Homo sapiens: one gene and its partners. The protein of the gene in region 3 purifies or fractionates together with the protein of the main gene of each other region. This does not show direct contact. Each region holds a gene or a part of one and is shown on either strand. Other genes may lie near its edges. The genes, in order: SLK, FLNB and MAP4.

Region 1 (7,107 bases), on a different chromosome or scaffold from region 3:
CTTTTCAATTTGTAGTTTCTCAGATACCTCTGCTTTTTCACTGACAAAACAATTAAAAATGAATTTGTGGGGCTCATCTCTTAAAAAAAAACTAAATTGACAGGTCTGAGGGTAGCTGGAAATCTCTTTTTTTTGAAAAAGCTCTCAGGTAATTTTTAAACACTGCCAGCACTGGGGATCAAAATCTACTTAATCAGTAACAATAATATCGACAGCCCCTCCCTCCATCTCAGGGCCAGAGATATATGTATGATTTTAGGGTTACTAGAAAGACAGTGCCTCTGCTGCACCCAAAAGTACCAGATTTGGCTGCTAGCTATGACCTAAAATTCTTTATTAAGACTAAACTCTTCATTCCTCAACTGGTATCCAAAAACATTTAAATGCAAACAGAAATAACAGACATATAAGACTCCTACAAATACATTTTGGTAAACTAAGTGTTCAGGGCAGATACTTACTGGGTGTTGATATGGAAGAAAGGGTTAGAAGGCAGAGGAAGCAAAAATGGAATGTGAAAATGCTAAACTCAAAATGCATCCAAATTTTAAACAGTTTCTCTTTGGCACCTTCCAATCACCTTTCTGCATCCTCTCCTCTTACTGTTCTCTTCTCCAAGCTTCCAGGATCCTCATGCTCTTCTTCCAAAGTCCAGGACTATGGTACCCTACCCAGGATTCCTCTAAAATCTAAAGTTGGCAGACTCCAAAAAATACACCTATCTACACCTTAACCTCCAAACTTCACATTTCTTCAGCTCCTACTAAAAGTTCAATAATTAATATCTTCTTCATTCTTATACAAGTTATTTGCATTTTTAAAAGAGGCTATTAAGTCAGTGAATGAATTTCAGAGTGGTGGTTATTTCAGTCAGTGAAAGAAAGTAAACTGAAAAAAGAAGAAAATCCTAGGAATACATGTAAGAAAATCCTAGGAATTTGGGGCAGATAGGCAGACTAATCACTCATGCCCTAGAGATCCATCTATGTCAGTTTTCTTAGGTTGTTCCTGCTTTTCTGTCTTCTCTTCTGCTACTATCAACCCAGAGGGTCTAGGAAGTATTTTCCAAGGGGCAGCCCATGGATCACCTGCATCAGAACTCTGTGGGATCTTTTTTTTTTACAAATAGTGATCCTTGGGACCCACTCCAGACTTCTACATAGCCGCTAGTAACTCCTAAGCACACTAAAATTTGAGAATTACACTCAAAGCTCCAAGTGTTCTGGGCTTTAGTGTTTGTTTTGTTTTCCCCACAATGGTTCTCATGGCAGTAGCAATGTCTGTGACTGTATGGGCCAATGGTAAATCAAGGATTGTTTACACCCTAAATGTGCTTAAAAAGACATCATTCTTTCAATTTCTAATTCTCTCATACATTGTTGATTCTTGCTAATGTTGCATCTAGATATGTCCAATAAAGGAACCTAATCACACCAAGCAACCATATTACACTGTTTATCTGCATCAGGTCTGCAAAAATAGGTAGATCCTACCACAAAATTTAAAGATTAGATCCACAATCTCCTTAGTTCTTTTTAATTGCTTTCATAGGCTGTAAGAATTTATATTGTTAATACTACATTAATTTAATGCTGTTTTATTTTCAAGACATCAATTTCACATAAACTCTGAATTGAGAAAATGGCAAAGGAAAACCCAAACAATGACTCATGTACACTTACTTGTAAAGATATCGATCCACTGTCTTTAGTTTTACTTAGAAAGCTAGAGATGGATAAATTCAAGTCAATACTGCTAGTATCAGCAGTGGAACCAGTGCCTGAATCATTATCATTTTCCTTTGGATTCTCAGATTCTGGTGGCAGAATAGTTTCAGTTTTTGATAAAGAACCTATTTCTTCTTTATTTTCTCCACTGTCAGAGTTGATATTAATACTGGGTATTAGAACAGGCTGAGGTTCAGTGGGCTGTGAAACTACAGTAACTTCAGGCTCTTTTTTAATTGACACTGGAATTTCTTTTTTCTCTTTATCTATCTGAGTAGTGACTTTAGAAGCATCCTGAACTTCACTTCCTAAAGCCTTTTGGTCAGTATCAGCCACCACACTTCTGACCTCCATTTCTTCAGTGCTACTTGACTCAGTGATTTCTTCACCTTCAGTTGTTCCTGGTTCCTCATTGATGTCCATTATGTTCTCTGAACTGTTTATTGCTTGTTCCTTATTTTTACCTTCTTCTATTTCATTCATTTCAACTATTTCTTTAATAGGAACTTCCTTAGTACCACCAGCCTCAGGACCCACCATGGGCTTATTAATTAATTTCTGGCCTACTTCGACCACTTCTTTCCCATCATTACTCTGCGTATCCTCAGCACTGTCTTCATCCACTTTCTGAGCCACATCTGCTGCCTCACATGTTCCTATCACATCACTTGTATTGCTGATCACATCTTTTTGAGTTTTGTCGTCTTCCCCCAATTTCTCTTGGGTGTCTTCCTTTGTAAGCCCAACTTCACTATCAACTGCCTGAATATTTGCCTCTTTTTCTCCAGTCTCTTGAGAAACTAAATCTACTGTTTGCAAAATAGTATCTTTAATTTCTTCAGATTTTATAAGCTTATTTTCAAACATCTGTTGCTTTTCCTGATCCTTTTCTTCCTCAGATTTTAGATTATGTTCAATATTTGTTTCTAAGGTTATCATTATATTATTCTCTTTTCCTTCACTGACTGAATTAATGTCCACAGTTTCTTGGTCTTCTGTGTCAGGCAGATTTTCAAGCTTGGGCCTCTTCTCTCTTTCATTCTCCTTGATTACTGCTGTTCTGTCATGGAGTTCAGTCATTGCTTCTAACTGAGCATCGGTAATATGTTCATTAATATCCTCCACAGCCTTTTCAGGTTCATCAGTGGTGGGTTTTTCATTAAGAATTTTGCTGTTGAGTTTATCTTCAGAGTTACTACGTTCTGTTTTTTCTGAGACAGACTCCAAAATACAAGCATTTTGTGAAAGTTTATCTTCTTCAGAGCTGGCGATACTAAGGTCAGAAGATGCACGCTTACTTGCAGGTATTGGCTAAAAAAGATTTAATGTATTTTTAGTGTTAAAACATGACCTTAGAGTGACCAAAACAATGTTTACAGACCTACAGTGATTTCAGATCTTTATTCAGTAAATGTTGCTGAATTTAAAGAATTAACAATTCTTCTCACAAGAAATATAACAAAAATGGGCCGGGTGCGGTGGCACACACCTGTAATCCCAGCACTTTGGGAGACCGAGGAGGGAAGATCACTTGAGGTCAGGAGTTCGAGACTAGCCTGGCCAACATGGTGAAACCCCATCTCTACTAAAAATACAAAAATTAGTTGGGTGTGGTGGCGCATGCCTGTAGTCCCAGCTACTCGGGAGGCTGAGGCCCAAGAACCACCTGACACCGGGAGGCAGAGGTTGTAGTGACCACTGCACTCCAACCTGGGTGACAGAGTGAGACTCCATCTCAAAAAAAAGGGAAATATAACAAAAATGTGCAGCGACGAGCAACCTTGCTACTAATCTTCAGGTCTAAATTTAAAGGTTTTGCGTTGCCACCCATCAATCCTTAGATACAGGAGCAACTACACCTCAAAACCGAACTCTATTCACTAAATGAAATTTCTTTCCTAAATACTGACCAGAGAATTTTCTGTTTCCTCCTCTTCATCTTCCTCTTTGCCATCTTCAACTTCTTCTGTTACTTCAGCCTTCGCCTCTGCAATCAATTCTCGGATGGGTTTGTTGGAATCAACAGTAACAAAGGGATGCTGTTGATCATTAAAAAGAACATACTCAACAACTGGAATACTACTAAACTAAGTTTCAAACACACACAACACACATTCTTATGTGGTAAAAAATATGAACATGTGGGCAGGAAAATGACAGAAAACTTCAGATAATGCTACATCTGAGAAAGAAAGAGGGGAGAGGGCTTGAGCAAAAGCAGGGACTACCTGCAACTGGATCTGTACATTTTTAAGAATCTGAAGCAAATTTATCAAAAATGATAAGAATTGTTATATCTGGGTAGTAGGTACATGTACTTTCTGTGTGTTTGAAAACTTCGTAATAAAAAATTTTAATTGAAATTTAAAGCAAATGTCAGGTCACTACATTATTACTTTTTTTTTTTTTTTTTTTTTTTTTTTTGAGACGGAGTCTCACTCTATCACTCAGGCTAGAAGGCAGTGGCACGATTTCAACTTACTGCAATCTCCATCTCCCAGGTTCAAGAGATTCTCCTGCCTCAGCCTCCCGAGTAGCTAAGATTACAGGCATGTGCCACCATGCCCGGCTGATTTTTTGTATTTTTAGTAGAGACAGGGTTTCACTATATTGGCCAGGCTGGTCTGGAACTCCTGACCTCAGGTGATCCACCCGCCTCGGCCTCCCAAAGTGCTGGGATTACAGGCATGAGCCACTACACCTGGCCTCATTATTACTTCTTAAAAAGTAACCATCTCTATAAACCCTATCAAAGCCTCAAAATTATAAAAAGCTTTAGAATTCTGTTAGAAGTATCTATAAACACCTGTATTTTTGACATGGTTCTAAAATTCTTGAGAATGAGAAGCCATTTTACTCATCTTTGTATACTCAACATTTAACAGTGTCTGTCGCAGACTAAGGGCTTCAAGTGTGGGGGTAACAAAATAATAATAGAAAGTGTGTTCCAGGGGTATACTTGCTGCACACAACAAAGCAATTTTTTCCTGCTTTATTCCCCCAGATAAATAGGTCAACCTAAAACACTATGATGGAGTTACATAATAACCTAACAGTAATTGCCTCAAGATTTGTCATTTTATTTGCCCACCTATAAAATTGACAATTTTTAATTAATATATTACAAGTAGTCCTTCTATAAAGCAAAATTAAATTTACCCAATCGCTTTAACAACATTTTTTTAAGTCAACAATATTTACTATTTACCCTCACTGTAAGACATTTTTTAATTAATTAGTTCACGGCCCCTGTCCCCAAGGAGCTTGCTTTCTAGTAACTGGAGAGACATAATGGAAATAACTACCAAAATGAAAAGAACATAATTAAACTGAATCAAAAAAGCACAGGAGGAATAACGTTTAAGCTAAATGCCTGATGGTAACAGCAGCATTTATTTTGTAAAGCAAATGTTAACTACTGCCATTTTGACTCTCCACAGGGAAATTTAAGTGGAAAGAAAGCACACTGAATATGAAATTACATTCTTAGATGTTAAAATAATTATATTATTTGCTGTTGTCATACTCTCTTACCTGCAGCAGCTGAGATGTAGTCCACCTGGCATCCACATTCTTTTCTAAGCATTTCTTTAGAAAGTCCTTAAAATTTGAAGACCTTTAAAATAAATTTTAACAACATTCTATTTTACTTTCTTGTTAATCAAATTAAACAAAACTCTTTGATAAGTTATGCTTAAGTTTCATTATGTATGTAATAGTATTAATTCAACATTTAAATAACTAGTTAATGAGACTATTAAGATTTTGTAAAACTTATTCATCTGTAAATACATGTTAGACATATATGTAAGTAGGTACATAATCACTGAGACAGCCATATACTCACAAGTATGCCAAAAAGCACAAAATTTCTAATAAATTTCACAAATATAGATCAATCTATATACCTCACTTCCTCATAGTACAGAAAATACCTTTCTCATGCAAAACTCAAATCATTCATATTTTCAGATATATGGGAAAAGTGAGCTCGAAGAGTTTTAATGGTCTTTAAGAGAAATATACCAAAAATCACTTTTCTAATTCATATAGTCTTCGAACCATGTATCCAATTTTAAATACTCTTGGAAAATTGTGAGAATATAACATCAAGTTCTGCTTCCTAGTATCATTTGTTTCTTATTAAGCTTTTTTAAGAATATTTTTACCATCTGGATGGCTGTGCTAATGTAGGTGGCTCAGATTTTGCTATTTTTAGCAGCACTCGCATTGGATTTAATTCATGATGAGGTGGTTCTATCTCAGCCATTTCTATTAAAGTGATACCCAGGGACCAAACATCAGCTTTGTAGTCATAGGGTCTGTCCTTAGATGTTTCACACATGACTACTTCAGGAGCCATCCTATGAAGACAGATAATTAAAAGTTAACATGTTTAAGAACAGTGATTGCAAAACACATGGTATAATCAATTATGTGGACAAAAATTCATGAGTAATTATAACTGCTGACATGACTAATACTATAAATTCATAAAACTGAATACATACCAATATGGTGTACCAATAAAGGAATCTCTTCTTTGAATTGTCCTCGTGTTTTTAGCTGATACTCCAAAATCCGCTTGAAATAATCACACAAAAGCATTAATGAGAACTTTTAAGCATTGTTCATTGTATTCAATGGGGAGAAAAAGCATTTTAAGTCTTTAATAAGGCTAATCTTATTATAAAAAGTAAGTTAAACAGAAAGAAAAAGATGTCTCTCCCATCTTAATCTTGACCATCTCTTTCTACCATCTCCCAAAAAAACCTGCTAAAGATCCCATTATCAATACATTTAATACCACCTTATCTTCAGATGACAAATCCTCCAAAATTGAAAATAAAAAATGGTAACTCTAAAAGCAGACCAGTCTATCCACTTCAAAATAAATGCCAACTAGTGCTATGTGGCACAATTAAACTAAGAGTCATTAACATTTTTTCTATAGTGTGAAAAATAGAAATTATACTAAAGCAACCTTTAGGACAGTGTATGTCTTGCTAAATTCCTCATAAAATTATATTGTCAAGAAAAAATTGGGAACCTTATGTTTTCTGATTTAAATTATACAGAACAGTAACATTATAGCTTTTTCAGTTGTTAATCCCACCTTTTCAGCCTGGAGTTCACACAACATTAACAGCAACATAAAACTGCTATTGCTGCATAATTCACCTCATGCTATAAATGCACGAATTTTTAAGTTTCACATTTGATGCGACAATTCTCAAAGTTGAATAAGTACCAAAAATTCAGTATTTGATGCTCATGCCTACCACAGAGTATACACTCAATAAATGGTAGCTATTATTAGCCATATTCACAATTCTAACCTTTGTTGTTTTTGTTGTAGAACTCTTAAAGGTCATGCAAT
Region 2 (7,107 bases), about 10 Mb from region 3:
CCTGCCTCCGCCTCCTGAGTAGCTGGGACTGCAGGCATGCATCACCATGCTGGCTAATTTTTTAATTTTTTGTAGAGGCTGGGTCTTGCTGTTACCCAGGCTGAGGGTGTTGAACTCCTAGGATTAAACAATTTATTCAGAAGCGACATCATCCAAGAACACCAAGGCAACTTTACGGAGCAAATGTTTTATTTAATAAGTTATAAGATACAATTTACAGTCGGCGTTTGATTCCAGTTTGGCTTCCGTGTCCCAGCTTACAACACCCGTGGTCCTTTCACATCAGGCTCCGGGCTGTTCCACTTTCTGTAGGGTGGGCTTTTACCCCCAACACTCGCCCCAGATACTACACCTGCCACAAGAGTGGCCACTTCCTCAGGACTAAGCAGCAAAACCTAAAGGTCTGCCTGCCCAGACCACACTACACATTTGGGCTCAGGCAACGTCCCTGACACTTTAACCTCATTCCAAAGCCAGCTCAGGTCTGCAGGAAGGCAGGCAAAATTCCCTACACCTCATTTCTGGATTTCTGCACCACACAGCTCTCACTGTTTCTGCCAATGGTGAAAAGACCACCAATAAGCTGCTGCCCTTCTCTCCCCCAACCATTCCCAACTTTCAGGCCAAAGACCCGCAGGAGTTTCATTCTGTCCTGTCTGTACAGATCATTATTTTCCAGAAAAAGTGACCCATGAAGTTGGCTGGGGCGGGTGTGGAGTGTTATGTCATGGGACGGACCTTGGGATGAGGGCGTTAATCCATGGGCCCCTCTGAGATCACTTTAAACATTTTGGTAAGACTGCCCAGGCTGATGAAGGGCTGGAGCGTGTGTTAAAAACAAGGGCTAGTGTTGGTTAAAAGGGATCTTTGGCAAGTGGGAAACTGCTCGCCACTGCAGAATTTCTTCAGACCAAGGAAGGGACTGAAACGGACTTGGAAAACTAAAGCAAAACCATGACTGCCGGGATGGTCTCGTGTGGTGATTCTGCAAGAAATAATCACCAGAGCGAGGGGACAGGTACTTGAGAGACATGTGGGCCTGGCTGCCACTCTGCCCTCTGAGTTTCTGTAGGGTGCCCGGCTGCCACTCTGCCCTCTGAGAAGTGTAAGAAGGCCACAGAGCATGGGGGTGTTGGCGATGAGGAGCGGTAAAGCAGTGCTAGTGATCTAATAGCCAAATACATTAACACGGACACTGGAAGAGATTAAGCGGATTTTAAGTCATCTCCTTTGCCAAATGACAACCAAACTAGGTGTCCCCTTTTTCTCTGCCCATCTTCCCCTAGCCTTGTTTCATAAATGCTGAAGAGTGAACCAGCAGCTCAGGCTAGCCAGTTTTGTTTTTTTGAAATGTCAGTCTCATTGTGTTCCTGGTCTGTCTGCTGCAGTGGCTGGTCTGTTCCACCAAGAGTTCTGGTTTGCACCTAGTGTACTCAGGATCTTCTCAGCCCCCTGAACAAGCTTGCATTTCTTAAGATTCTCCAATATGTCCCTCAAGAGTCCAGTCTAGGACTTATTTCTGAAGGCATTTTACAACAGCAATATTTTAGGGATGGGGTTTCAGCCCCACAAACAGGCTGGAGGGCTTTGTATAAAATGAATTACAAACAAGCAACAAAAGCAACCACAAGAACTCTCTCCAGGATTTGAGAAAACTGTTTTAAGGCACTGTGACATGAAAAGGGCTGCCAGGGATGTGTTCCTCCCCCCACTTCACAGCCAGCACATAATCGCCCCTCTCCTTGACGACGTATGTGACGTTGTATTGCTGGTTGCCTACATGCTTCATGGAGACCTCCTCGCAGGGGGTGGTGGGCCCATGGACCCCGATCAGCAGCATGTTGGAGCCTAGGAGGCAAAAGGTGGTTACTCCACCCGGATGCATCAGGACAGGCACAGGAAGAAGAGGAAATATGAGAGCCAAAGGTAAGGTGCTTCCACGATAATGCTGGGGCCCCTAAGAGGTGGGAGAGCGTGGCAATTACAAGCAGAGGCTCATAGAGCCTGACGGTGTGGGTTCGAATCCCTGCCCTGCCACTTGCTACCTGGGTGACCTTGGACTGGAATCTCACCTCTCCCTAGCTCAGCTTCCCCATCTGTAAACAGGGAATGAGAACAGCACATACCTCACGAACTAGTTGTGAGGTTTAAGAGTTATGGGTGTCAAAACCTAGCACACAGTAAGGGCTATTCTAAGTGTTGGCTATGAGAATCTTCTTGTTTACTCTCACAAGCACCTTAAGGAAGGTACTTCCGAGAAGAGGAAACTGACTTTTGGAAAGAGATTTAATAACTTTCCAAGGTCACATGGCTAAATAAGTTTTAGAACAAACGAATGAATGAATGAAGTGGCGGTACTAGGTTTCCAGCCCAGGTGTACTGGATGCCAGAACCCAGGCAACCGACCCTTGAAACCCAAATAAATACCCAAGTTCAAAAGGCAAAAGAGAAGGAAATCATTTAAAAATATTAAGTGCAGGAGAACAGGGTCATGACGATGGTTACTTGCAAACGGCTGGCCTACATGGGGGTGGGCACTGCAGGAGACCTCAGCAGGGAAGGCCAGTGTACCCAGGGTGCCCAGCCTGCCCCTGCCCCACCCCACCCTTGAAAAGGCCCAGACACCTACCAGCTTTGCTGCAGTCCACCAGGAAGGAACTCTTCTGGCCCACAAAGGCCTTTGAGAGCCCTGCCCCCTTAGAGGTCACCTTGCTGGCGTCCGAGGATGCCTTGGGAATGGCGCTATAGCAGGTCTCTGTAGACGACCTGGTCACTGACTCCACCAGGATGGATGAGGTCTCGTTGGCTGAGCCAGGGCTAACTAGACGCTGGCCTAAGATACAGGAGGGAGGGGGACAGGCATGAATGGCCAGATCAAGAGGGGTCTCTCAGCCAGAGGACAGGCGAGTACCCTACACAGTAACCCCAGGAGAGCCCGCGCACCCCAACACAAAAGCCACCACACCTGTATCTCACACCCATAATGTCTTCTAAACCCCTAGGATCCCACCCCCATACAACTAGGATCTGGCTTTCTGGGCAAATGGATGAGTCTGGCCTTGGCTGACAAGGCCAAGGACCCTCCCAATCCCCCCACCCCCTACCCACCAAAGATGTGCCTGTGGAATTCACATCTTTCTATTGACATAAAATAGTCTATGTATAAGCAGTGTAAAAGTTTGGGATGACATATAATGAAATATCAAAAAATGATTCTGTGGATGAGAAAGGATGATTTTTCTATCTGAATTTTCTAATTTTCCTGCGATGAACCTACATTCTTTATGTAACAGTGAATCATGACGTGTGGAAGGGATTTACTACAGTGTTTATGGTGGTTACCTTGGGTGGTGGCTGTGAAGTGGTTTTCATAGTTTGGTATTTTTTCCAGTGTTTTGGAGGAGACACATTTTTATAAGTATAGGAAAACTTTTTGATTATTTTTCAAGTGAAAATTAGAAATCAGGGGATTTTTCAGACCCTGATCTAAACAAATACGTAAGATTTCAATATGTATTCTTTCCTGTTAGAGATAGAAAACCACCTAACATCCTAACATGCTTTCTCAACTTCTGCACGGCTCCACTCTGTGGACTTTTGTAAGTTTCAAACACTGCCCTCTGACATCTCATACTATTTACTGACATTCAAAGTTCAAAGTAGCTTTAACACATCTAAAACCATCCATAGTTTCCACTATGATTGATCTGACACAACCAGCTCCCCAGGAAGGGAGAGTAACTCCGAAGGTGGTTGTTCGTTACCTGTCACCTTGGCCTTGAAGGGACTGCCCACGATGTGGTTGGGCCCACCGTATTTGACGCTGATCAGGTAGTTACCAGGAGCCATGGGGGTGTACATGACTTTGTACCCTTCAGGTGTTTCCTGGCAATCCATTTTAACCTTGGATGGGCCTTCGATGGTGACGGATAATGTCCCTGGACCTGCTCGGGTGGTGTTAATAAAGAATTCCGACTGGATACCTGGGAGAAAGGAATAGAAAATGCTGTGTTGATGACTTGGAGGGCTTTCCTGGGAGCACTGAGGCCGTGGTGAGGGACACACATAGATCCCCTTACAGAGGGCTCACCCTGGTGGCATGGGAACCCACTGGCACTAGCTCTGAACTTCTGGCAGAGAGAACCTCAGGCCCTGCGGGGTGGGGGCTCCCTTTTCTAGGCCAAGGCAGGAGGAGCATGGCTGACATTTCGCCCACAAGCACCAACAGCCTGGACACCCTGTTCTCTCCTCTGGGCATGAGCCATTGTGGCTGAGGGCAAGAAGCCTGAGTCACACTGTGAGCCTGAAGTGCTGCTTCAGCCACCAGAGTCCAGCTCTCCCTCCAGGGGTGTGGGGGAGGCGTGGGCCCCTCTGACTGTCCTTTCTTCTCCGGGTAGACTTGGAGAAGCCAGGGAGGCCAAGCATCTCCTCCCTTCCTCCTCAGCCCTCACCCCAGGCACTGTGCTGCAGACCGGGTGCAGCCACTGTGACCTGCCAGCCCACCCACTTTGCCGTGAATTCCAGCAACAAGCACAGGAACAGAACAGCAGCTCCCGCTGACGGGGCATGCGTACCCCACTCCGGCTCCAGGTCCTGTGCACAGCACCATTTACGCATGTGGTATGGAATCCTTTCCGTGATTCCTGCTTCACAAATGACTCTGCGGCTCAGGGAGGGGGCCAGTCACGCTACACAACCAGAAAGTGGTAGAGCCGGGTTTGAACCATGTCTGCATGGCTCTGGTGCCAGGCTCATCTCTTGACCCCTGGATGGGCAGTGGAGCTGCCTCAGATCCCCTAACTGCAGCCCTGAGACAACTTAGCTGGCCCAGGGAGAGCCTCCTTCAGTCATCAGGTCTGGCGCATGCCTGCTACAGTGCCCTCTATGGGGCATGCCTGGCATAGCATCCCCATGCAGGGCTATGCTTCTGCCAGAGCCCTAGACACTGCCCCAGCTGGGAAATATTTTGGTTTAATTATAGCTCCTAGTCCAGAGAAAGAATTATTGTTCTGGATATCAATAAAAACAAAAGAGCTGCTATCGTGCAACTCTCAAACACAACCCAGCTGTTCCTGGAAGCTCTTGAGGCTCCTGCCCCAAGGTCCACCCCCAACACTATCTCAACCTCATCATGGTATCTAATCTGTGCAGCCAAGAAGCCCCTCAAGCAGCAGCTCTGAGGCCTGGGGCTACGTAGGGAAGAAGCGGGAGGTGAGCAACAAGGAGACAGTGTGTCCATCCAGGAAGCAGCTGTAAGGTGATGATAAGGAAAGATATTTTATTGATTGATTGATTGAGATAGAGTCTCGCTCTGTTGCCCAGGCTGGAGTGCAGTACCATGATCTTGGCTTATTGCAACCTCCGCCTCCCAGGTTCAAGCGATTCTCCTGCTTCAGCTTCCTGATTAGCTGGGATTACAGGCACTCGCCACCATGCCCAGCTAATTTTTGTATTTCTTTAGTAGAGATGGGGTCTCACCATGTTGGCCAGGCTGGTCTTGAGCTCCTGACCTCAAGTGATCTGCCCACCTTGGTCTCCCAAAGTGCTAGGATTACAGGCATGAGCCAACGCACCCGGCCTTATTACTAATATTTTTTTTTTTAGATAAAGTCTTCCTCTGTTGCCCAGGCTGGAGTACGGTGGCATGATCACAGCTCACCACAGCGTCAATCTTCCAGGCTCAAGCCATCCTCCTGCCTCAGCCTCCAAAGTAGCTGGGACTTCAGGCATGCACCACCACGCCTGGCTAATTTTTAAATTTTTTTGTAGAGATGGGGTTTTGCTGTGTTGCCTGGGCTGGTCTCAAACTCCTAGGCTCAAGTGATCCTCCCACCTCCACCTCCCAAAGTGCTGGGATTACAGGTGTGAGCCACTGTGCCAGGCCAAAAAGATATTTTTAAAGTGAAGTTGAAATGATGTGGCTGCAGGGGAAAGTTCCACCATTTTTTAACAAGCTGTTTCATTCCTAAGTTCGTCTTTAAAAATTTTTTTTTTTGGTAGAGATGGAGTTTTACTATGTCACCCAGGCTGGTCTCAAACTCTTGGCCTCAAACAATCTTTCTGCCTTGGCCTTCCAAAGTGCTTTGATTACAGGCATGAGCCACCGCACCCATTTGGCCCTAATGCAATATTTTGACCAACCAAAAATCAGTTCATCTTGACTGTGAGGGCCCAAAAGGGCAGGGAAGACGAGGTGGGAAAAGAGAAAGCAGGGGTTATGGGACAAGAGCTACTACTTGGCTGTTACCTCCTCTACAGCTCCAAACAAGCCTATTAGGTGGGTCCTGTTATTAATCCTGTTTTACAGGAAAGGAAGCAGAGGCACAGTGAAGTCAGATAATTCATCTGGAGTCACACAGCTGGGGACCAGCAGAACTGGGATTTAAACATAAAGTCTGTCCAACTTGGAGCTAAAGCACTTACCTGAGAGAAGATGGAAGGAAAAAAATCCACAAGCAGAAGTCTCTCACCACTGCCTCTAGCTATAACCTGTATCTGACACCACAAAACATCTCTGGGCGTGGCGGTCTTCCCCCACCCCCTCAAATATGTCCAGCTCAGTTCCTGTGAGTTTAATGCATGTTAAACGCAGCACTGCTTGTTCTTCAAGGCAGTTAAGGAAGGAGGCCCTTCTGGTATACCCCGAGCACACTGGGGTTCCTGGACCATTTCATTAGGAAAATTGCTCAGCGGCTCCAAAGAATCTGGAGCTCCCTGGTCTATCTCCCAGCCTCTCAAGCCGCCTCCAGCAGGGTCCCGCCCCAAATTCTCCACATTCCCCTACTCCAAAATCTACAGAATGGACCATTTAAAGCTTGAGCCAAGAGATACAGCAAACTCACCCATTAAAAACAGAGGGAGGTTTGCTTTGTTCAGAAGGTCAGGATACTGGGCGCTCTGGCGGCCAAGCACAGATACCTTTTCATTCCATGCACACTGCAGCTGTGTAATCTCAGAATGGATATTTAGGGAAAGGCTTGGGAGCAGGAGGGCTGGAAAAACAAGGCGCCTTCCCTGTGACAAGAGCAATATTTACACAGGGTTTGAAGCAGGCGGTTCTGTACCTCTCCCCTCCTGGCTAGGAGCTTCCCTGCAAGAGCAACTCCT
Region 3 (7,107 bases):
AGTGGCTTAAGCTCCACGGTCAGCGTCCTGTCACCACTCGGAATCCACCTCCACTCTTCCCTCCAGGTAGATCCAGGGAGAAGGGAGGGCATGTCAGTTTCTTTTGGGTTTGGACCAAAGAACCAAAAAAAGATGAGGATAGAATCTGGTTCTCCTCTCCTAGATCCCAACTTAGCCTCAACCACCCCAACCCCCTCCCAACCTCCTCCACGGAGCAGTGGCGCAGTGATGGGGCAAGACCAAAGCAGGGAGATGGGCCCAGGCTGGGGAGTGAGAGGAGGTGTGGGGCAGGGCTGCTGCTGCCCCGGGCACGCAAAGCAGGAGGGAAGGCGAGCCTAGCGGGCTGCCCAGCACGGCGCCCAAGCGCTCACTGGTCTAGTGGACAGCCCGGGAAAGGGGGCCAAGGACCCGGGAGCCCGAGTTGGGGCCGCCAGGGAAGTGTGGGGGGCGGGAGACAATGTCGGCCCCGTGGTCGGTGCGGGCCCTGGCATTTGCCCGGAACGTCAGCCTGTAGGTCTCAATCTGCAGTGACATGGGAGGAGGGAAGGGAGAGGGGAACAGGGGAGACAAGAGGGGAACACGGGGGAGACGGAAGACGAGACCAGAATGTCATCATTAGATGCCTGGAAAATAAAAGGTTACTTCATTAAAATTTAGGCCACACTCTAGTCAAAAACAAAGGAGTTTCAATTTGCGGCCAGTGGCAGGGCCCCTGGCTGGCCCTTAGGCCGAGCCCAGCCACTTACTTGTCTCCTGGATCTGGCTGTCCAAGGTCTGGGCCTCCCTTTGGTCACCACCCCCTGACAGGGTGGGGTGGCCATTGAGGCCACTGGCTGAAGTGGGGGCGCCAGCTTCAGGCGCTGCCTCAGAGATGGCCGGCTCCTCCCCAGCAGGGGGACCCGGACACAGAGGAGCCTCGCTGCCACCGCCCTCAGTCTACAATGAAACAGTGGGGGAGACAGTGCAGGGTCAGTCGAGGGGGGGAGTGGGATGGGGTGATGGTGGTGGGTTTCACACACAGCCCCCACCCTTGCTGCCCTGGCACCCACTGGCTCAAGGCACAGTCGCTTGGAGAATCCCAGGCAGGTGCCCCGGCCCCACCCACCCCACCTCACCTGGGAGACCGACTCCCGAGGGTCAGGAGCAGCTGGACCAGTGACACACTCTCAGAGCCCCTCTGTGGCATGTGAGGCTCTGATGAAGCCTCTCTGAGGGCAGAGGTGCCAGGCCTCAGGCTGGTACCAAAGACGTAGCCATGACAACAGTAAGCAATAAGCCTGAAGGGTAGCCCCCTGAAGGGTACAGCCCACCCTCCCAAACCCTCCCTGAACCCAGGCCACCCCCTGCACACAGAGTGGGGTCCTCAGTAGCTCCCGGGCAGCCCTGCCTGCACATCTGTCTGGTCAGGAACACAGGTGCTGAGGCCTTGTCTGTGCGGGGCACCATTCTGGGACCAGGGGTCCATGGGAGGCAGAAAGGTGTCCAAGGAGGTATAACCCAGGGACACTGTGGAGGCCTGGAGGGCGTCATAGGAGGAGGACATTTGGGGGACATGGAACACTCAGTGTGAGGAAGGCAGAGAAGAGAGAACAGCTGCGAGAGGCCACTGGGGAGCTGGAAAGCGTGTGTCGCCAAATACCCAAAAAGTGACAAGGGAGAAGTGGTTTCTAATCGGCATAGTGAGAAATAGGCCTCGATTAAAAACAATAATTCCAGAACTAATAAAGGGATATAATGTGAACAAGGAAAAGAACACAAGGCTTAGGGTCAGAAAAGCCCAGATGTGAATCCTGGTCCACGCTCGCTCGCTGTGTCCTTGGAAAAGAGACTAAAGCCAAGTTAACGCCCCACTGAGACGGGCGTGAGAACGGCATCCTCACGAGGTATGGGGGGCACGAACTGAGAGCCTGTGGCAGCAAGGACCCCCCCAGATGTTCCTGGAAGCTGATCAAGGCTTCAGTCAGAGCATCAGGAGAGGATGGGACAGGGGACGGGCTGGGCAGTGGCTGGCACTGGGGAGCAGAGATGGAAGGGAAGGCCCAGGGCAGCGGCTCCTGGCCCCTCTCCCCTGCGCACCTGAACCCGAGCAGCAGCAGCCATCCTTGTGCTCGGGGTCTGCAAGATGCCCCTCATGGGCCCCCCACCCACGGATGACATGGAACATAGGACAGACAGCATCTTGGCACACAAAAGGTCTCACAGTACTGTGGAAGGAGGAAGGGAGGAAAGAGGAGAGAGGGAAGGGAGAAGAGGCCCAGCCAGTCGTGAGGATGGGAACCTCTGCCACTTGAGCTCTGTCCCAGAGCCCTGCAGAGGGAGGCCCCAGGCAGGCCCTGCAGAGGGAGGCCCCAGGCAGGCCCTGCAGAGGGAGGCCCCAGGCAGCCTGCTGTCGCTGGCAGCTAAGAATGTGCTGTCCTGCTCCTAACCCAGGAGCGGAGCCTGACATGGGGCGGGAACCCACATTCCCCTTGGCGCGAGACAGCTGGGGAGAACTGTGTGGTGCAGAACCCCCGCTCGCCTGGGGGTGGTCTGTGTCCCAGTCCGTGGCCTTCTCAAATGGCTGGATGGGCTCAATTAGGAAGGCCATGGCTCTCAGGAGCAAGGTTCTGCCTCCAGCTGACAGGTGAGGGGTGGCTGGGCTGGGGCCTCTTCACTTCTGCCTCAGTCAGGACTGATGATACACGGTGGGAAAACGGCAATGGTGTGGGTGAAGACATGACTCCTGAAGAGACTGAGGGGCGGTGACAGGTGCCTACCTGTGAGGACCCTGACCCTAACTGCATAGTTCCCACCCCTCCCCAGCTGTGTCTCCCCAGTGACCCACTCGCTACCTTCACAGCACCTCCTGCAGGTAGGTGGCCCACATTATCGAGGGATCCCACCTTGGCCTGGGCCTTCTCCTTGAAGTTCAACTTCTGACTTTCAATCTTGACATCTCCTCCACCTGGAACCACAAAGGAACTGGTCACCTAGGGTGGCAGAGGAATATCCCTGCAGGCAAAACCAGGACTAGCGATATGCCCAATCTAGAAATGAGACAGACGTGACCTGTTCTGGGTGGCAAATGAAGAACAGTGAACACGTTTGTCTAAAGAGGACTTCTCATATCACAGTGAGGCTGAGACAATCTCTCCGTCCAGCCAGTGGGAATACCTCCAAGAAAAGGAAAGCCATCCCTTCCACCACCCCATGCCACAGCCACTGAGCTGCAGGCCAGGCTTGGGCAGGCCTGGGGCTCCGAGCACAGCCTCCAGGGCGAAGCCTCTGCTTCTCTACTCTGTGTGGGAATGCCCTCCCGCTAACTGGGCCATGCAGTGCTTCTCAGGCACAGCCTCACTGAATTCTCATGAATGCCCTGTCATCACGGCCACGGTCCCTGCTTCCCAGCCGGTAAAACTGATGCTGCAAAAGAGAAGGGACTCACCCAGAGTTACCACCAATCTGCTGATTGACAGTGACAGGTTGTGAAAATTGTCTGAGACCCTAAACCGTACCACACTCTAGCAAAAAGAAGGAATAATAAAAAGGACAGAGTGGCCCCGAGGCTGTGCGCTGAGGAAGGAAAGACATGGACCAAGGCAGGCCTGGGATCTAGTGACCTCAGGCTAGGACGGGGAGGGAAAGTGGTCTGAACTCACGCCCAGGGTTCAGAGCTCACTGGCCAGAGTGTGCCCATGAGACCAAGGGGAAGGGTGCGGGACGAGCTGCCCTCAATGAGTACCCAGCCCCTCCCGCGCCCAGCAGCGTGGTTTCCCTTGGGCCCCTTCTCCTGTTCTTCCATCTCCTCTCAGCTCACATGGCAGACCTCCACGCACAGCTTCTGGCCGAGGTCTCCCGGTGTCCCATATTGGGAAACCCAGCCCTGGCAAAAACTAGACCCTAAGTGACTCAGTGTCATTAGAGAAGGAAGTATCTGATAGGAGATTTCCCAGATAAAAGGGGAAAAAAATGGTTAGTTAAGGACAGAACTGTTTTGATCTTTCTAAATAGAACACATTCTAAACTGGATCATGCTCTTCGCTGAGAGGGAAAGGGAGTTTTTTTTTTTTCTTTTTGGAGACAGAATTTCGCTCTGTTGCTCAGGCTGGAGTGCAGTGCCATACTCTCGCCTCACTGTAGTCTCTGCCTCCTGGGTTCAAGCAATTCTCCAAAGGCATGCACCACCACACCTAGCTAGTTTTTGTATTTTTAGTAGAGACAGGGTTTCACCATGTTGGCCAGGCTGTTCTCAAACTCCTGACCTCAAGTGATCCGCCCGCTTTGGCCTCCCAAAGTGCTGGGATTACAGGCATGAGACACCGCGCCCGCCCTGAGGGAAGAGAGTTTTGCCTTCACCTTATCTGGCCTGTGGTGGCTAGCCTTCTGGGATACCAGGTCTGCCAGCCAGTGTGCCTGCTGCTACAGCAGTCCTACTCACAAATCTGCTGTAGACCCAGGAACTAGGACACGAGGCTGCTAGGGGACTACCCAAGGCAAGAGCCCAGCCTCCGCACAGCGACTTCCACAGGGGCGCTGGGCCAACCATGTTGCTGGAAGGAAACTGCATTAGTGCAAGTTGCTGAACGCCTCCCATTCTCCTGCCAGGGCTAGCGGCTGATGCTTCACTGGTTGGGAGCACCCTTTGCTCCTGCATCTGATAGGTGGGACCTGAACACTGCCCTCTATACAGCTCCTTCAGCAGTAGCTTCTGTAATCCTCGTTTAGAGCCAATCCAGGTTCTCAGCTCAGAGTGCACCACTTCCCCAGGCCTAGCTCAATAGTTCCACACACACAGTAGGTACTCAAGAGAATGCCTGTGCAGATGGCTGCTGTAAGAAACTGCTCCTCCTCCACTTAGAGGTTAGCACCCGAACTCCTGCTCCCTGACAGAATGAGGACTGTGGTGTCCTGGGTAGTCTTCATGGGATGCTAAAGGCACAGAGATGAAACCCTTGCCAGCCAGCTGGCTGCCCAGCTGACCCATGGCAGGACGACATACCCTGGAGACCCAGTGGGCAAGGGAGGCACCACTCACCAGGCTTGTGCTTGATGTTAGCCTTAGACCCACACTTGGAGGAGACCTTAGAGATGTCCACTTTCTTGTTCTGAATCTGAACCTGAAGAGAAGGACACAAAAGACTCATTCAGAGAGAAGGTATACTGTCAGAGCCAACCCCATGCTACCTTTTAAATCTTCTCCATGTTCAGGGTTTCTCGCTCCCTCTGTAAGCTGCTATCTCAGTCTGGTCAAAGACAAGGTCATCTCCCTAAGTACTTAAAAGAGCCCTCGACCCACCCTGGCCCTGCTCTTCACTTCCTTTTTTTTTTTTAAAGATGGAGTCTCGCTCTGTTGCCCAGGCTGGAGTACAGTGGTACGATCTCAGCTCGCTATAACCTCCGCCTCCTGGGGTCAAGCAATTCTCCTGCCTCAGCCTCCCGAGTAGCTGGGATTACAGGCGTGTACCACCACATCTGGCTAATTTTTTGTATTTTTAGTAGAGACAAGGTTTCACCATGTTGGCCAGGCTGGTCTCGAACTCCTGACCTCAGGAGATCCACCCACCTCAGATTTCCAGAGCCCAGAGTGTTGGGATTACAGGCGTGAGCCACCACGCCTGGCCTTCACTTTTTTTTTTTTTTTTTTTAAGACAGAGTTTCACTCTTGTTGCCCAGGCTGGCACGATCTTGGCTCACCCCAGCCTCCATCTCCCGGGTTCAAGTGATTCTTCTGCCTCAGCCTCTGGAGTAGCTAGGATTACAGGCATGCGCCACCACGCCCAGCTAATTTTGTATTTTTAGTAGAGACAGGGTTTCTCCATATTGGTCAGGCTGGTCTCGAACTCCTGACCTCAGGTGATCCGCCTGCCTCAGGATCCCAAAGTGCTGGAATTACAGGTGTGAGCCACCACGCCCGGCCACCAGCCTTCACTTCTAACCCCACCTCCAGCCAGACCAAACCACCATTTCCACACCCCACAGGTCTTTCTGTGCAGACCCTGTCCATGCATGCTCCAGACAGCTCTTCTGTCATTTCACCAGGTCCAAACACCAGCACCAAGGCTCCCATGAAATATCCCCTTTATTCCATCTCAAATCCTTACCTATCAACTCCTTGCCCAGAGAACCTGGAATAACATATTTACTTCTAGTCCTTTTCAATGCATTTTCCCCTTGGGAGAGGTGAGGGGGTGGTGTGTGTGTGTGTGTGTGTGTGTGTGTGCGCGTTGTGTGTGTGTGTGTGTGTGTGTGTAATCATAGTATTCCTGCTTAATCCATGTTATAACAATTTTCCCAGCCAGGTGCAGTGGGTCATGCCTGTAATCCCAGCACTTTGGGAGGCTGAGGCAGGCAGATCACCTGTGGCTAGGAGTTTGAGACCAGCCTGGCCAGCACAGTGAAACTCTATCTCTACTAAAAATGCAAAAATTTGCATTTAAAGGTGGTGCACCTTGGCTGGGCACGGTGGCTCACGCCTGTAATCCCAGCACTTTGGGAGGCTAAGGCGGGCGGATCACGAGGTCAGGAGATCGAGACCATCCTGGCTAACATGGTGAAACCCCGTCTCTACTAAAAATACAAAAAAAATTAGCCGGGCGTGGTGGCAGGTGCCTGTAGTCCCAGTACTCGGGAGGCTGAGGCAGGAGAATGGCATGAACTCGGGAGGCAGAGCTTGCAGTGAGCCGAGATCGTGCCACTGCACTCCAGCCTGGGCAACAGAAAGAGACTCCGCCTCAAAAAAAAAAGGTGGTGCATCTTTAAGTCTATAGCCATGCATGCCCTCTGGGTTGCTGGATGGGGATTCCAGCATTCCTGTGAGCGGCCCCGCTGTCCTCTGGTAGGTACTGTGGGAGAGCCTGACTTTCCAACACATCAACTCCATGCAGTGTTGCACCATTCTGGTGGGTTTCACCACAAGCTGTTAAATGGTGAGCTACCTTCTTGAGCCCTGTTTTCCCTTCTTTGGTGTCAGGAAATATAGTCTTCACCATGTTTCCAGAGGACAGATATAATGCCACCAGTATTTTTGTATTTGCACCCACAGCCCAAGGCCTGGCACAGAATAACTACCCACAATCCCCAGCTTGCCAGAGCCATTCTCAATCTTTCCTCTAAAACTTGGCTCATGCC

The links.
Region 1: the proteins of MAP4 (region 3) and SLK fractionate together in Homo sapiens (co-fractionation; 2 studies listed by BioGRID). This does not show direct contact.
Region 2: the proteins of MAP4 (region 3) and FLNB fractionate together in Homo sapiens (co-fractionation; 2 studies listed by BioGRID). This does not show direct contact.

The regions. Positions count from the first base shown.
Region 1 is NC_000010.11:103,998,103-104,005,209, reverse strand, and holds part of SLK (STE20-like serine/threonine-protein kinase), read right to left. Parts: intron 6,312-7,107; coding exon 6,239-6,311; intron 6,092-6,238; coding exon 5,897-6,091; intron 5,344-5,896; coding exon 5,262-5,343; intron 3,767-5,261; coding exon 3,638-3,766; intron 3,039-3,637; coding exon 1,683-3,038; intron 1-1,682. UniProt on the Homo sapiens protein: Mediates apoptosis and actin stress fiber dissolution.
Region 2 is NC_000003.12:58,165,316-58,172,422, reverse strand, and holds the end of FLNB (filamin-B), read right to left. Parts: exon of another isoform or gene 6,308-7,107; intron 3,984-6,307; coding exon 3,765-3,983; intron 2,834-3,764; coding exon 2,630-2,833; intron 1,927-2,629; exon of another isoform or gene 1,849-1,926; coding exon 1,661-1,848; 3' UTR 647-1,660; coding exon of another isoform or gene 550-646; 3' UTR 353-549; coding exon of another isoform or gene 262-352; 3' UTR 172-261; downstream 1-171. Other genes in the region: uncharacterized protein LOC124909485, read right to left, coding at 262-352, 550-646. UniProt on the Homo sapiens protein: Connects cell membrane constituents to the actin cytoskeleton. May promote orthogonal branching of actin filaments and links actin filaments to membrane glycoproteins. Anchors various transmembrane proteins to the actin cytoskeleton.
Region 3 is NC_000003.12:47,852,417-47,859,523, forward strand, and holds part of MAP4 (microtubule-associated protein 4), read right to left. Parts: intron 5,097-7,107; coding exon 5,015-5,096; intron 2,945-5,014; coding exon 2,832-2,944; intron 937-2,831; coding exon 747-936; intron 642-746; coding exon of another isoform or gene 616-641; exon of another isoform or gene 523-615; coding exon 518-522; coding exon of another isoform or gene 376-517; 3' UTR 1-375. UniProt on the Homo sapiens protein: Non-neuronal microtubule-associated protein. Promotes microtubule assembly.